2 separate regions of the Homo sapiens genome follow, and region 2 is linked to region 1. Evidence: fine-mapped expression QTL. Tissue or cell type: whole blood. Region 1 holds a variant in brackets; the other region holds the start of a gene. All regions are shown on one strand. Distances are from middle to middle.

Region 1 (8,107 bases):
AAAAAAATTGTTTACATATTTTTCTTTATTTGCTATCATAAAAAATGCTAAACATTCTTTTTTTATGTAAAGAAATTTATTCATAAAATTTATCCCTCTCTCTGTTCCTTTATGATTTGCACTTTTGTAGCAAGGAAAGACCTGCTGAATCAGAACTTGCATTATTATTATTTTTTTTTTTTTGAGACAGAGTATTGCACTATTGCCCAAGCTGGAGGGCAGTGGCTTGATCTCAGCTCACTGCAACCTTCACTTCCCAGGCTCAAGTGATTCTCCTGCCTCAGCCTCCCGAGTAGCTGGGACTACAGGCATGTGCCCCATGCCCGGCTAATTTTTGTATCTTTAGTAGAGACAGGGTTTCACCATGTTGACCAGGCTGGTCTCGAACTTCTCCTGACTCAGGTGACCCTCCCACCTCAGCCTCCCAAATTGTTGGGATTACAGGCGTGAGCCCCTGTACCCGGCTTGATTTGCACTTCTGCTTTTAAACATTGTAACTTTTATCTGCATAGAAATCCAATATCCTTACTTTTCTTAGTGGATTTGTAGTTTCCTTTTTCCTTTTTAACTCTTCAATACAGGTGGAATTTATTCTGGAATTTATAAAATAAATCATATTTATTTTCTATGATTTGAGGAGAATGCCTAAATTGGTCTACTTCTAGCCAGCCAATTTTCTCAACAATATTTCTTGAATAATCAATTTTTTCCATTTTTTTTCCCAAACAAAAAAGTAGTTTATTTAAGGGTTTAAGTTAGTTTAAAATTTTGTCTGAAGAAAAGAAACCAATTTTACATGCTTTTCTTTTTTTTTGAGACCGGAGTCTCGCTCTGTCACCCAGGCTGGAGTGCAGTGGCGCCATCTCGGCTCATTGCAAGCTCTGCCTCCCGGGTTCATGCCATTCTCCTGCCTCAGCCCCCCGAGTAGCTGGGACTACAGGCGCCCACCACCACGCCCAGCTAATTTTTTTGTATTTTTAGTAGAGACGGGGTTTCACTGTGGTCTTGACCTCCTGACCTCGTGATCTGCCTGCCTCGGCCTCCCAAAGTGCTGGGATTACAGGCGTGAGCCACCGCGCCCGGCCACAATTTTACACGCTTTTCACTTAAAAATGATGTAACCAAGAGACATGCTGGAGTTGATGTCCCACGGCTGCCCAGCCCTGGCTGGCCACTTAAAATCCACTCAACCAGATACCAGAGTCCCTGCCGCACTACCACCAGAATACTGAAGGTCTTCATGATGTTTATTGTCAAAAGAGCCTGCACATCTGACATTTCCGGTTCTCACTTCTACCCTCGCAGTATAGAGGCGAGAAGAAAGACTTTTTACAAAGAAGCACCTCTGACTGTTGAGGTGGTTTTAGATCGTGTATTAAGTTCTGATATATCTTAAGGTCTCTTTCAGGCTATTTATTTTGTACCATTGATTGGTCTTTGTCTCTTTTTTTGTTTGTTTTTTTAAGACAGGATCTCTCTCTGTCATCCAGGCTGGAGTGTAGTAGCACGATCTCGGCTTACTGCAACCTCTGCCTCCTGGGCTCTTGTGATCCTCCCACCTCAGCCTCCCAAGCAGCTGGGACTACAGGCATGTGCCACCACACCTGGCTAACTTTTTGGATTTTTTAGTAGAGATGGGGTCTCGCTATGTTGCCCAGGCTGGTCTCAAACTCTGGGCTCAAGTGATCCGCTCACCTCAGCCCCCCAAAGTGCTGAGATTACAGGCATGAACCATCGTGCCTGGCCTGGTCTGTCTCTTGATACTTGTGCTAGCTCTATATATTTTTAATTATTTAGATTTTAGTTTTAATCCCTACCCAGTAGTCTCAGAAAAGGTTATCGAAAAACAACAATTGGGTTGTTATGGTACAAACATTTTGCATGTTGAGGCCTGTCCCAGCGTGAGACCATTTCATCTGGTCTGGGCATTTCTTTGCCTCCACAGCTCTTCCCTGACCTGGGTGGCGTGGAAAAGTAGATGTTTCCTTATTTGATTTTGCTTTTGCAGTAGGGGCTAAAGACATCCAGCTCTGGCTTTTAACAATAGCTCTTTACCAGTTTTAAGAATTATTTTTTAGAAAACAGAACGGTAGAGAGAAAGGAGTAGAAACCATTATTTTCAGCCGGGTACGGTGGCTCATGCCTGTAATCCCAACACAAGTGACCCAAGGCGGGCAGATCACTTGAGGCTCGGAGTTTGAGACCAGCCTGGCCAACATGGTAAAACCCCATCTCTACTAAAAATACAAAAATTAGCCAGGCGTGATGTCATGTGCCTGTAGTTCTAGCTGTTCGGGAGGCTGAGGCATGAGAATCGCCTCAGCATGGGAGGTGGAGGTTGCAGTGAGCTGGATCACGCCACTGCACTCCAGCCTGGGTGACAGAGTGACTCTGTCTCAAACAAAAAGAAAAAGAAAACATTATTTTTACTGTATACCTTGTATGTCATATGCATATGTTACCTGTTCAAAAGAATGGTTAAAATAATCTTTAACAATTATTCTTTAAAAGGGTAAACATATGTCAAGTGTAGTATTCCTTTTTTTTTTTTAATTCCTTTTCTTTTTTTTTTTTTTTTTTCTGAGTTAGGGTCTCACTCTGTTGCCTGGGCAGGAGTGCAGTGGCACAATCATGGCTCACTGCAGCTTTGACCTCCCAGGTTCAAGTGATTCTCCCACCTCAGCCTCCTGAGTAGCTGGGACTAAGGCATGTCCCACCACTCGGGGTAAGCTTTAAATTGTTTGTAGAGATGGGCCAGTCTACCTGGACTCAAGCAGTCCTCCTGAAGTGCTGGGTTTACAGGTGTGAGCCACCACCCCTGGCCTCTGTGTGTATCCTTTGATTGCTGCTAAGAACCTTTGATGAGGCAAGGGAAGGTTGTGGTCCTTTTCCTATCTTTGAATGCCAACCCTAGAACTAGATCTGGTCCAGAATGGTCGTGATTTGCTCATTGTATGTGTTCCCTTTGCAGGCGTGCCGCCGCCAGACGGATTACTGGCAGTTCGTGAAAGACATCCGGTGGCTCAGTCCCCACTCAGCCCTTCACGTGGAGAAGGTAAGAGTGAGAGCAGAGCGGCTGTGCTGGCAGAGCTGTGGGTCTTCACTGTTTGAGGCTCTGTCAGAAGAATCTTCTAGGCTCCAAGGAGGGAATATGTCCAGTTGCCTATCAGCTGAGGAAAGGAAATTAATTATCCCTGTAGGGACTGACTTTATTTGCTTAAAAAAAAAAAACATGCAAACCCATTGGTCCAGGCCACTTTTTCTCCTCTGGGGAAGGGAAAAAAAGTTTTGCTATTTTCAAAAAAGCCTGCCTACATGGGACCCAGGGTGAAGCCTTTCAAAGCATTTCCCTTACCTGTCTCAATTTAGTTCTCAGGTCATTAGGCCTCAATCTTGCCGTATCTACCAGGATGTGTGTTTTGACTCATGCCCCTTTGCTTCCCAGTTCATCAGCGTGCACGAGAACGACCAGAGCAGTGCTGATGGTGCCAGTGAACGTGCTGTTGCCGAGCTGTGGCTGCAGCACAGCCTGCAGTACCACTGCCTCTCAGCCCAGCTCCGGCCCCTGCTCGGGGATAGACAGTATATCAGAAAATTCTACACAGGTAGGTAGAGGCCACTTAGGACTGTCATCTGTGCTTCCTCGTTGTCACCCACCTCACTATCCTCTACCCCTCTGGTACCAGGGCCTCCTATTTTTCTTTTTTTCTTTGAGATGGACTTACGCTCTTGTCACCCAGGCTGGAGTGCAATGGCGTGATCTCGGCTCACTGCAACCTCCGCCTCCTGGGTTCAAGCAATTCTCCCGGCTCAGCCTCCTGAGTAGCTGGGATTACAGGCATGTGCCACCATGCCCAGCTAATTTTGTAATTTTAGTAGAAATGGGGTTTCTCCATGTTGGTCAGGCAGGTCTCGAACTCCCAACCTCAGGTGATCTGCCCGCTTTGGCCTCCCAAAGTGCTGGGATTACAGGCGTGACTACCGTGCCCGGCAGGGCCTCCTGTTTTTCACTTGATGCCATAGGGATTCTACTCAGAAACATATATCCAGACTTACCTCTCACCTCCCAAGTAAGACACAATCCAGCTTTATGTTAAGGTCGTCCCCTACGGCCACACACACAAACCGTAAGAATAGCCACCATTTACCACGAGTTTCCTGTGTGCCCGTCACTGCTGTCCAGTATCTTCACAGCAGCCCCGAGAGTTGGGCATTGGTGCTACTGTTTCCAATCCACAGGGCTCCAGGAGGTTAGGCGACTTGGCCAAAGTCACTCAGAGCCAGGATTCAAATCTGGATTTTTCTGACGTTGAAGCCTCTTGCCCTGGCCATTTTGCTGCACCTCG[C/T]GTTCTTCAGCTTCTCCTCTACTTTGTTTCTGATCTGCCTTCACCCTCCTCCTCATTCATCCTTACCTCTCCCTTTCTGCTTCCTCAAGCTTCTCTCAAGGCCTCCCTGATGGGCTCTATCACTGTGGCAGCTTTTCTCTCCCCAGATGCTGCCTTCCTGCTAAGTGACGCTCATGTCACGGCCATGCTGCAGTGCCTGGAAGCAGTGGAACAGAACAACCCCCGCCTCCTGGCTCAGATCGATGCGTCCATGGTACAGGGGACAAGGAATTATCCACGTCTATGCTGGGTCCCTGGAGCTCAGCAGGATGTAGCCCTCTACAGCAAACTTTTTCACTTAGCCATTTTTGTGAGCTGAAAGGCTTGCATTTTTTTTTTTTTTTTTTTTTTTTTTTTTTTTTTTGAGACAGAGTCTCGCTCTGTTTCCCAGGCTGGAGTGCAGTGGTGCAATCTCAGCTCACTGCAACCTCTATCTCCTGGGTTCAGGCGATTCTTGTGCCTCAGCCTCCCGAGTAGCTGGGATTACAGGCGCCCGCCACCACACCCAGCTATTTTTTTGTATTTTTAGCAGAGACAGAGTTTCACCATGTTGGCCAGGACGGTCTCGATCTCCTGACCTCGTGATCCTCCCGCCTCGGCCTCCCAAAGTGCTGGGATTAGAGGCCTGAGCCACCGCGCCCGGCCAGCTTTCATTTAAAATGCTTGGAGGAGGGGAGGTACTGTTAAGTACCTATTGAAGTAGAAAGTCTAGGCTTAGGTCGTGTGCTTAGTAGACCTAAGCTGGGGAGTGGGGAGGTAGATTTTGTTAAACCTGTGGTATCTTTTGACAAAGGATACCAAGCCTTGACAAAGATCTGGGGAAAAGAGGGATGGTTTTGAATCGGATAGAGTTTAGTGTCAGACCTGGCATAGCTTAATGTTACACGGGGTCAGTTTTTTCATGTTTTTTTCTTTGATGTAAAGAAAATTTTATAGTACAAAGAAAATTTGTTGCCTAAAATTAACTTATCCCATCACTAATACTCCAGTCAGTGCCTTAGCTAGAATGGAATCAGAGTCCCCACTTCTTAGAGAAGCAGATCCCCTATCTCTCCAGATTCTTTTAATTAATTATTATCATTATTATTATTTTGAGACAGAGTCTTTACTTTGTTGTCCAGGCTGGGCTGGAATGCAGTGGCATGATCTTGGCTCACTGCAGCCTCCGCCTCCCGGGTTCAAGTGATTCTCCTGTCTCAGCCTCCCGAGTAGCTGGGATTACAGGTGCACGCCACCACGCCCAGCTAATTTTTGTATTTTTAGTAGAGACGGGGTTTCACCATGTTGGCCAGGCTGGTCTCGATCTCCTGACCTCAAGTGATTTGCCCGCCTTGGCCTCCCAAAGTGCTGGGATTACAGGTGTGAGGCACTGTGCCCGGCCTGATTCGTTTAATTTTGATTGTTGGTTACTATCCATTTAATACTTTGTATGTGCCAGGCACGGTGCTATGTATGATAAATGTATCATGTCATTGACTCTTCATAACCCTGTGAAGTGGGCATTGATCTCATTTTATAAAGGAGGCTGCTGAGGCACAGAGTAGATACGTGGTCCAAAGTTTGGATCAAATAGCTGATAAGTGTCAGGGCCTGGATTTGAACCCTAGTCTGTCTGACTTCTGATTCCACATACATCAGCACTTTGTTGTGCTGCCTCTGTAATAAAGTACTCCTGGTTTAACACCTGGAAGGATTCCAGTGCAGATGCTGTGGTTTCACAGTTGTAAATTACATACTGTAGTAGAAGGTAGCCTTGCTGTATCTACAGGCTCTGGCTAAAGTCCAGGCCTACTGCAAAGGTAGCTTCTATGGCATTTCTGCAGTACTGCGTTGCCCCCACTCTGAGGCCCTTTGTCCTTAACTCTGACACATTTTTTGGTTTTGTTTTGCTTTTTAGTTTGCCAGAAAGCACGAGAGCCCGCTCCTGGTGACAAAGAGCCAGAGCCTGACAGCCCTGCCCAGTTCCACATACACCCCTCCAAACAGCTATGCTCAGCATTCCTACTTTGGGTCCTTCTCTAGCCTCCACCAATCCGTGCCCAACAATGGCTCAGGTATGGGGACAGGAAAAAGTGGTCATTACATTTATCCCCAGCCCTGGAAAGTAAGAAGACTTTGTGGTTGCTCATAGGCTTGGAAAATTGAGACTTGGGTTGGTAGTTTTTCTTAATAAGGGACATCTTTACAAGTTATATAGTGACTAGCTTGAAATAATTCAGTAGAATCATGAAGTAACAGAAGAGAGAGATGTTTGTAGATTCCCCTGGGTTTCTAATCCACATTGCCAAGAAGGCATTTCAATACTAGCTAACACCGAATGATTGCCAATCATGTACTAGGCTCTGTTGTGTTCAGTTTGTATGTGTTATCCCATTTGAGCCTTCAAACAGTCCTCTTACTGCTCATTTTTCAGATGAGGAATGCATACTAATAAGCAATAAAGCACTGTCTCAGGAGCCCATACTCTTGACTTAGCTGCTTCTAAATAATTTTGTACTTTATTTGGCTTGCCGTTTCTGAGGTGACATCGTATGTCCTGGTCACCCAGTCCTTCATACATACTGCAGGATTCCACCTCACCCTTGCTCCCCTTACCATTTCCTTTTATATTCTAGAGAGAAGATCTACTTCCTTTCCACTCTCTGGCCCTCCCCGGAAACCTCAAGAAAGCAGAGGGCACGTCTCACCAGCAGAGGATCAAACCATCCAAGCCCCCCCAGTTTCAGTCTCTGCACTAGCCAGGGATTCCCCTTTGACCCCAAATGAAATGAGCTCCAGTACTCTGACCAGCCCCATAGAGGCATCCTGGGTCAGCAGCCAGAATGATTCCCCAGGTGATGCCAGTGAGGGGCCTGAGTACCTGGCCATTGGCAACTTGGACCCCCGAGGCCGGACTGCCAGCTGTCAGAGTCACAGCAGCAATGCCGAGAGCAGCAGTTCCAATTTGTTCTCCTCCAGCAGCTCCCAGAAGCCAGATTCTGCTGCCTCTTCCTTAGGGGACCAGGAAGGAGGTGGGGAGAGCCAGCTGTCCAGTGTCCTCCGCAGGTCCAGCTTCTCAGAGGGGCAGACACTCACTGTCACCAGTGGGGCAAAGAAAAGCCACATTCGCTCCCATTCGGATACCAGCATTGCCTCCAGGGGAGCTCCAGGTAATGAGGAACACCGGCTGCTAGTTAGCAAGATGACCCTGAATTGAGAGTAAGAGAGGGCTTGTTATGGGGACTTTTCAGGTGGCAGAAAGAGATGTTCTGTTTCTGGTGATACAACATCTTATTTTGTAATGAAAGAAGTTTATAACGAAATACTGAGACTCAAAATCTCTAAGTCTATTTATGTTTGTTTCTTTATACATTGCTAATATTAAATGTTTTCCTGGATTCTTTACTAGTTTGGTAACATCAGAGGATAGCGTGACTCATAGTGCGAGTTTTCAAAGTATCTCTTGGATTGGGGAAAGTATTATTGAGCTTTAAAAATAATCCCATTAAGTTCTGTCATTTCCTGTGACGTCTTAGAAGTTTGCCCAGGGTGTAATAATACCAATGTGAGAGAGGCAGAGAGATACTGGGGTTTCTAATTAAAACGAAGGCTATAGTGAGTGCAGGGTGATGCGATCCAGCAACTGAGTCGGTGGGGCTGACGGCCGCATCACTGATTCAGGGTGAGAGGCCGTCAGATAAGGAGGCCCTGGCAGCTGGGACCTCCCTCACCAAACACCAGCT
Region 2 (8,107 bases), 32 kb before region 1:
ATTTTGCCAATTATACTACAAAATTTCTTTTTCTTTTTCTTTTTTTTTAAGATGGAGTCTTGCCTTGTTGCCCAGGATGGAGTGCAATGGCATGACCTCAGCTCACTGCAACCTCCGCCTCCCAGGTTAAAGAGATTCTCCTGGCTCAGCCTCCCGAGTAGCTGGGATTACAGGCGTCTGCCACCATTCCCAGCTAATTTTTTGTATTTTGTATTTTCAGTGGATCCATGATCCAGCCTGAGTGACAGAGCGAGACTCCATCTCAAAAGAAAAAAAAACAAAAGAAGGGGTTCAGGATTATGAGGGAAAGTAGAGGGATGGGATAGGTAACGCATGGCTAGTGCAGATTATTGTCATGTTTATTAATGGCTTTAAAGAAAATCCAGTACATGTAACTTGAACTTGGACATATGAGAAAAAGCCTGTTTTCCAGCCTTTTTGCTACAATTTTAGTTTTTGGATTTCTTTTTTTTCTCCCCAAGACAGTCTCACTCTGTCACCCAGGGTGGAGTGCAGTGGTACAATCTCAGCTCACTGCAACCTCTACCTCACGGGTTCAAACGATTCTCATGCCTCAGCCACCCAAGTAGCTGGGATTACAGGCGTGTGCCACTACACCCGACTATTTTTTCTTTGTATTTTTAGTAGAGACAGAGTTTCACTATGTTGGCCAGGCTGGTTTCGAACTCCTGGTGTCAAGTGACCCGCCTGCCTGGGCCTCCCAGTGTTGAGATTACAGGCGTGAGCCACCGCTTCTGGCCCCTAGGATTTCCTGATAAAGCTGATTGCCTTTTTTTTTGAAACGGAGTCTCCCTCTGTCGCCCAGGTCTAGCTCTGTCTTCCAGGCTGGAGTGCAGTGGCGTGATCTCTGCTCACTGCAAGCTCCGCCTCCCGGGTTCATCACGCCATTCTCCTGCCTCAGCCTCCGGAGTAGCTGGGACTACAGGCGCCCGCCACCACGCCCGGCTAATTTTTTGTTGTATTTTTAGTAGAGACGGGGTTTCACCGTGTCAGCCAGGATAGTCTCCATCTCCTGACCTCGTGATCTGCCCGCCTTGACCTCCCAAAGTGCTGGGATTACAGGCATGAGCCACCACGCCCGGCCTTTTTTTTTTTTTCTTTTTTCAGACGAAGTCTTGCTCTTATCGCCCAGGCTGGAGTGCAGTAGCACGATCTCGGCTCACTGCAAGCCCTGCCTCCTGGGTTCAAGCCATTCTCCTGCCTCAGCCTCCTGAGTAGCTGGGATTACAGGCGTCTGCCACCATGCCCGGCTAATTTTTTTGTATTTTTTAGTACGCCTGTAATCCCAGCACTTTGGGAGGCCGAAGCCGGCGGATCACCTGAGGTCGGGAGTTCAAGACCGGCCTGACCAACATGGAGAAACCTTGTCCCTACTAAAAAATACAAAATTAGCCGGGCGTGGTGGCGGATGCCTGTAATCCCAGCTGCTCAGGAGGCTGAGGCAGGAGAATCGCTTGAACCCGATCGCGCCATTGCACTCCAGTCTAGCCAACAAGAGTGAAACTCTGTCTCAAAAATAAATAAATAAATAATATAGTGTTAATTTGGGATTATACTGTATGCCAAAAAATAAAGTTCATACATTTATAGAACTAGAAGTAAGGCCAGGTATGGTGCCTCATGCCTGTAATCCCAATACTTTTTGGGTGACTGAGGCAGGAGGACTGCTTGAGCCCAGGAATTTGAGACCAGCTTAGGCAGCACAGTGAGACCCTGTCTCTACCAAAAATTAAAAAAAAAAAAACAAATTAGCTGGGCATAGTGGCACTGCCTGTGGTCCCAGCTACTTGGGAAGCTGAGGTGAGAGGATCCGCTTGAGGAGGTTGAGGCTGCAGTGAACTGTGGCAGCGCTACTGCACCCCAGCCTGGGTGACAGAGCAAGACTGCGTCTCCAAAAGAGAAGAAAGTCACAGAAGGAAGAGAAATCCCAATGAGTAATATTGCCCCTTTCTTAAAGAAGTATAATCGTTTAGTAGGAAAATGAGAAAGTTTGAAAGAGAGTATTTTTTTAACCTAAATGAAATCATAAATGGCTTCAAGAGGCTCTTTCATTTCATTTTTAATTGCCAAAACACTTTTGTCAAGTTTGAAAATACCTAAAAGCCATATATTATTTTAATATAGAGTCATTAGTTTTTCACGGAGTTATTCTTGATCGCTCTTTCTCCCTCACTTGCCACAGTCAGTCCTTTATAGAGTAGTGCTGATTCTGTTGCCTTCACATTGCTGTAATCTGAGCCTCCTTGTTCTCTTCAACCGCTGCTGTAGTTTAAGCCTGGGTTTGCAAACTAGCAACTCAAGGGCCACCTTCAGCCTACAGACAAGCTGTGTTTGGCCTGTGCAAAGTTGAAAGTTTAAAAAATTTGTTGCCAACGTTTAAAAATTTGGAAGTAGTGCTTAAAAATGCAGATCCTAGCTTCTTTTAAAAAATCAAAATATCATAGCTAGGTGTGGTGGCTCGCACCTGTAGTCCCAGCTATTCAGGAGGCTGAGGAAGGAGGACTGCTTGAGCCCAGGAGTTCCAGGCTGCAGGGAGCTATGATTGCGCCACTGCACCCCAGCCTGGGCGACAGAGAGAGACCCCGTCTTTGAAAAAGAAAAAAGAGAAACCAGAGTATCTGGCAACCCTAGGCCCACGTTTCTTTCAACTGGTTCGCTTCACTTCTTAGCATTACTTGGTTATCCCCCATAAGGATGACCAGTCTCCTATCTAGCCTTCCACCGTTACCTCAATATAGTATTATATCTGCCCCATCTCCTGTCCACATTGTCAAAAGTGGCTTTCTCATCAGATTCGATCAAATCACTTCTTGATTTGCATATGCTTGATTTGCTGATTGTTTTCAGGATAAAATCCAAACTCCTTAAAATGGCATTTCATGATCTGGTTTCCCCACACCAGAATGCCCACACCATGCTGCTGCTCACTCCTTCCCAGCTCTGGCTACCCAGCACCTGCAGTTCCCAAGCCAGCACTTCCTTCCTTGTATCTGCCGTGTTGCTCTCTCCACCTTCTCTTCTTTCTCCTGGCTAACCCGTACTCAGCCTTGAAAACTCTGCGTTGACATCCATCTTCCGAGAGCCCCCAGAAGCCTTTCTCTCCTGCTCTTTTATGATCCCAAAGCAACCTGTGCTCTTGTTTGTGAGCGCTTCATTTAAATGCTCGAGGTCTCCAAACACCACCAGCGGACATTAAGCCAGGGCGGGCTGAGTGGGGTTAATCGTACCGGGATTAGATTAGCGTTATTGCCTAGTCTACATCTCGGACTGAGTTCGGTCCCCAGCGTGTAATGTCACGGGGGTGAATAAGGATACGCCCCGGCACGGATTCCTGAGACCAAGGTCCCCCGCCGCTTGCAAGCCGGCCCAGCCAACCACCGGGTGCGTAGTAATCCACGAGCGCGGCCTGGGATTGGAGGGCGCGGCCTGCGGGAGCGGCCTGGGATTGGAGGGCGCGGCTTGCGGGAGCGGCCTGCCGTTGGAGGGGCGCGGTCTGCGAGCGCGGCCTGGGATTGGAGGACGCGTCCTGCGGGAGCGGCCTAGCCTCGGAGTGCTCGCCGGGGGCTGTAGTCCCCGGAGCCGGAAGTGGGGGTGGCCGGGATAGAAGCCGCAGCCCAGGCGGCGGTCCCTCCCGCTGTCGCCGCCCGGGTGTAGCGCATCACCCGGAGCCCACCGGCCGCAGGTGCCTCCTCCGGCCCCAGGGGGCCCCGGGAGCCCTGAAGGGCGAAGCGGCAGGGACGCCTCTCTTGGGCGAAGAGGCGGCCTCACCGCCCCGGATGCGGCCGGAGGGCGCGGGAATGGAGCTCGGAGGCGGCGAGGAGCGCCTGCCTGAGGAGAGCAGGTGGGCTGGGAGCCGCCGCGGAGTCGGGGCAGCGACAGGCGCCGGAGCCCCGGGAGGCTTGGGAGGGCGCGGGGTCACGGAGAGAAGGGCCGGGCGCGACGAGTCTTGAGGACGACGGCTGCGGAGGACTTGTTTGGGAAGCATTTCGCAGAGGAAGGACGGGCGGGGCGGGGATGGGACGAAGGAACCGGCTTAGGGTGAGGAGGGTGGGTGGGATTTGCGGAGGGCAAGGGCAGCAGAGGAGGGTGAAGCTCAGATCCAAGACTGCTGGAGAGGAGGTGGCAGCTGAGAGACTGGGCGAAGAGGCCAGAGGGGTGCAGTGAGGTTTTACAGGCCAGAGTCTATAGACAGGGGCAGGGCACCACCCGGACTGAAACTTGCCGTGACAGCAAGTGGGGCCAACGCGAAGAGGATGTGAGAATTCCTGGGAGCAGAGGTGAAGCGTTATGAGTGGCCTCGGAAGAAGCTTAGGCAGAGATGAGCATGGGGATGAAGGCGAGGAGAGCCTGGGGAGAAAGTGAGCGAGTGTCATGGCAGTGCGGTGGGGCGGGGACTGCTAATGAGACCAGAAACTCTGCACTTTGTCATTGCCGAATCCCTGTCAGAGAGTGGCAGGACCTCTGTGCCATTTCCTTTTCGTCTTCAAACCTGTCCCTTTTTCCTCACAATGCAAACTAAGCAAGTTCACATTTATTTATATGGAACCATGTCAGAAAGCTCATATCTTCTAGAAATTGGGGGATTTAAAATATAAAAACTACTTTGGACCGGGTGCGGTGCCTCACACCTGTAATTCCAGCACCTTGGGGGAGGCTGAGGCGGGTCGCTTGAGTCCAGGAGTTTGAGACCAGCCTGGGTAACCTAGGGAGATCCCCGTCTCTACAAAAATACAAAAATTAGCTCGGCGTGGTGGTGCTCACCTGTGGTGCCAGCTACTCGGGAGGCTGAGGCGAGAGGATCACTTGAGTCCAATAAGTCGAGGCTGCATTGAGCCGAGATCGCACCACTACACTCCAGCCTGGGTGACAGAGGAAGACCCTGTCTTCAAAAAACAAAAAGCCAAAGAAACCCCGAACTACTTTGACTAAATGATGAATCGGAGTCTGTAGAGATGCCTTCCATATTTAGGGTTTGCTTCATTAATAACTCTGGTCTTAATCTTTTTTAAAGAGGCTGGAATGCTGACAGGCGAGAGCAGGAATGTGGCTTAAGGGAGTCATACTTGACATTTATTATTTTATTTTTATTTTATTTTTTGAGACACAGCCTCACCCTGTCCCCCAGGCTGAGCGCAGTGCCGTGAACACGGCTCACTGCAGCCTCCAACTCTTGGGCTCAAGCGATTATACTAGCTCAGCTTCCCAAGTAGCTGGGGATATAGGTGCCAGCTACCACATCTGGCTACTTTAAAAAACTTTTTTGTAGAGACAGGGTCTCACCATATTGCCCAGGCTGGTCTCTAACTCCTGGGCTCAAGCAATTCTCCCCCGCCACGTCGGCCTCCCAAAGTGCTGGAATTAACAGGTGTGAGCCACCAGGCCTGACCTCACTTGACATTTAGAAACAGTTTCAGATATAATGATGGTCTCAGGAGCAGCTGGGATCCAAAAACTAGAAGCAGAATATTTACCTCTGAGAAAATATCAACAAGGGAAGATTTATGAGATGTTCCTGGGTGAAGACTTGCTATTTTTAAGGGTGACTCTACTTTTATGTGCAAAGTGGCCTGTTGAACAAAACCTGGACTGACAGGACTTTGGGGCTCCTGCCTGAGATCTGAGAATGATTTGTGCTAAGTGAAACTGAACATCTTACTTCCCTTTTCCATGTTTCAGTTTCTGCTTTGCCTATTTGACTATTTATTCTTCCTGCAGATGTCTGTGACGTGCTTCGTGTGAAAGGTCCCATGTAAATTCTAAACACGTTTTAGGATTGTTTTGATTTCCCTCTACCACTTCATGTGAGGGAGGCTGGGTTAGTTATTTTTTTAATGTATGTAACAAATGCTATTTACCACATGCCAGGAATTGTTTTAAGGTATTAAGATATGAATACTGCGTTAACTTCTTTAATCCCTATAACTATTGTATGTGGTCGGTACTACTGTTATTGCTGTGTCACAGATGAGAAAGCTGAGAAATGGACAGGGTAAGTAACTTGCCAAGGTTGTACAGCGAATCCCTGGCAGAACTGGATTCAAACCCAGGCAGTTCGGCACCAGAGTCTGCGCTTTTTTTTTTTTTTCTTTTTTTAGACAGGGTCTCACTATGTTGCCTAGGCTGGTCTCAAACTCCTGGGCTCAAGATATTCTCCAGCCTCGGCCTCTCAAAAGTGCTGAGGTTACAGGCATGAGCGACCATGCCGGCCCAAGAGACTGCACTTTTTTTTTTTTTTTTTTGAGATAGAGTCTTGCTCTGTCGCCAAGGCTGGAGTGCAGTGGCACCGTCTTGCTTCACTACAACCTCTGCCTCCCAGGTTCAAACAATTCTCCTGCCTCAGCCTCCCAAGTAGCTGGGATTACAGGTGCCCGCCACCACGCCCAGCTAATTTTTTGTATTTTTAGTAGAGACGGGGTTTCGCCATGTTGGCCAGGCTGGTCTCAAACTCCTGACCTCAGAGGATCTACCAGCCTCCGCCTCCCAAAGTGCTGGGATTACAAGCGTGAACCACCGTGCCCGGCCCGAGTCTGTACTTTTAATACTCACCCTATGCTGCCTCTCACTATGCTAATAGTAACAACGGAAGTATAAGATAGTGAATAAATTTCACAGCATTCTGTGCCTGTCATTCAGGCCAGTAGGATAGCTCCTTTGCAGAATCTTTTCCCGTCTTTTATTCTTTTTATGATTGCCTCTTAACCAAAAAACTTTAATCAAAACTTAATTTTAGTAGTGGGGTTATCCTCACAAAGTCACTCCCGTCATTGTTATAGGCATACTGTGTTGGCGGCTGATTAATTCAGAATGCGTTGTTTAATGAGGCTTCATGGTACTGATGGCCTCCTTAGCTCCAGATACACAACTGGTAAATACACATTCCTTGTGCCTATTAATTGAGGCTTTGTGACTGGGTTACTGCAAACATAACCTTTCTATGGCCAATGAAATACCCAGTTCAGAAACAGTCTTCTTGATGAGATAGCATCATTTTTATTTATTTATTTATATATTTTAAAGATAGGGTCTCACTGTGTCACTCAGGCTGGAGTACAATAGTGCAATCGTAGCTCACTGCAGCCTCAAACTCCTGGGCTCAGGTGATCTTCCCACCTCAGCCTCCTCAGTAGCTAGGACTACAGGTGTGTGCCACCACTCCCAGCTAATTTTTAATTTTTTCAGATTTTTTGTAGTGACAGAGTCTCACCATGTTGCCTAGGCCAGTCTCAAACTCCTGGCCTCAAGGGATCTTGCTGCCTTGGCCTCCCAGAGCACTGGGATTACAAGCATGAGCCACTGTGCCCAGCCGGTAGTGTCATTTTAAAAATGAAGGATGAAACTTTTCAGTGTATTTTCCTTAAGTAGTTGATATAATGAAACGTGAATAAGCTTTAAAGTCAGACCTGCATTTGAATCCTAGTTCACGGATTAATTTGGCTTAACTTGATCAAGTTACTTTACGTAACCTGCCTGAGTAGGAAGAATAATGCTTTCCTGCCTGAGAAGTTCTGAGGATTCAATAAAACAATGTGCATAAAGCTCCTGAGAGCCTGATACGTAGGAAGTAGGAAAAATGTCGAATCCACCCCTTGCTAGTTTTTTTGAAATAAGGCGAGGGTCTCCCCCACAAGTGACTGTTTGCAAGGGTATCACTTGTTCTTCCTCTTTCAGTGGCTCCTTCATCCGAGTTGAACACATTGGGACCTAGAGTGTTGGCTTAGCTTCCCACTTCCCCGGTAGTGTGCTTAGGTGATGGGCTTCCCTATTGTTTTCCGTCTAGCTATCACTCCAGCCAGATGCTCTGGGGCTTAGGGATGATACTTCACTTTCCCTCCGTTTCCTAAATGCCAGTTATTTTGAGGTTGCCTGGTAAAACTACTACACTACACTGGGCACGGTGGCTCACGCCTGTAATCCCAACACTTTGGGAGGCCAAGGTGGGTGGATCACGAGGTCAGGAGATCGAGACCATCCTGGCTAACACAGTGAAACCCCGTCTCTACTAAAAATACAAAAAATTAGCCAGGCGTGGTGGCAGGCGCCTGTAGTCCCAGCTACTGGGGAGGTTGAGGCAGGAGAATGGCGTGAA

Evidence for each region. PIP is the estimated chance that this variant, and not a neighbour inherited with it, causes the effect.
Region 2: it holds the start of RUBCN, and the variant in region 1 is fine-mapped to the expression of RUBCN in whole blood (TOPMed, PIP 0.99).

What each region holds. Positions count from the first base shown.
Region 1 is chr3:197,700,040-197,708,146 of GRCh38, reverse strand. It overlaps RUBCN (rubicon autophagy regulator), which reads left to right. Exons shown (of 20, transcript NM_014687.4): 3 at 2,972-3,055; 4 at 3,446-3,605; 5 at 4,493-4,599; 6 at 6,283-6,439; 7 at 7,001-7,534. Among named protein-coding and RNA genes, the nearest start is that of MIR922, 30 kb to the right of the region's middle. The variant C/T (reference allele first, on the strand shown) is at 4,347.
Region 2 is chr3:197,732,410-197,740,516 of GRCh38, reverse strand. RUBCN (rubicon autophagy regulator) reads left to right here and starts at 3,613. Exons shown (of 20, transcript NM_014687.4): 1 at 3,613-3,862. The coding sequence starts at 3,798. RefSeq lists silencers at 858-990, 3,350-3,899 and enhancers at 3,488-4,335, 5,266-5,315.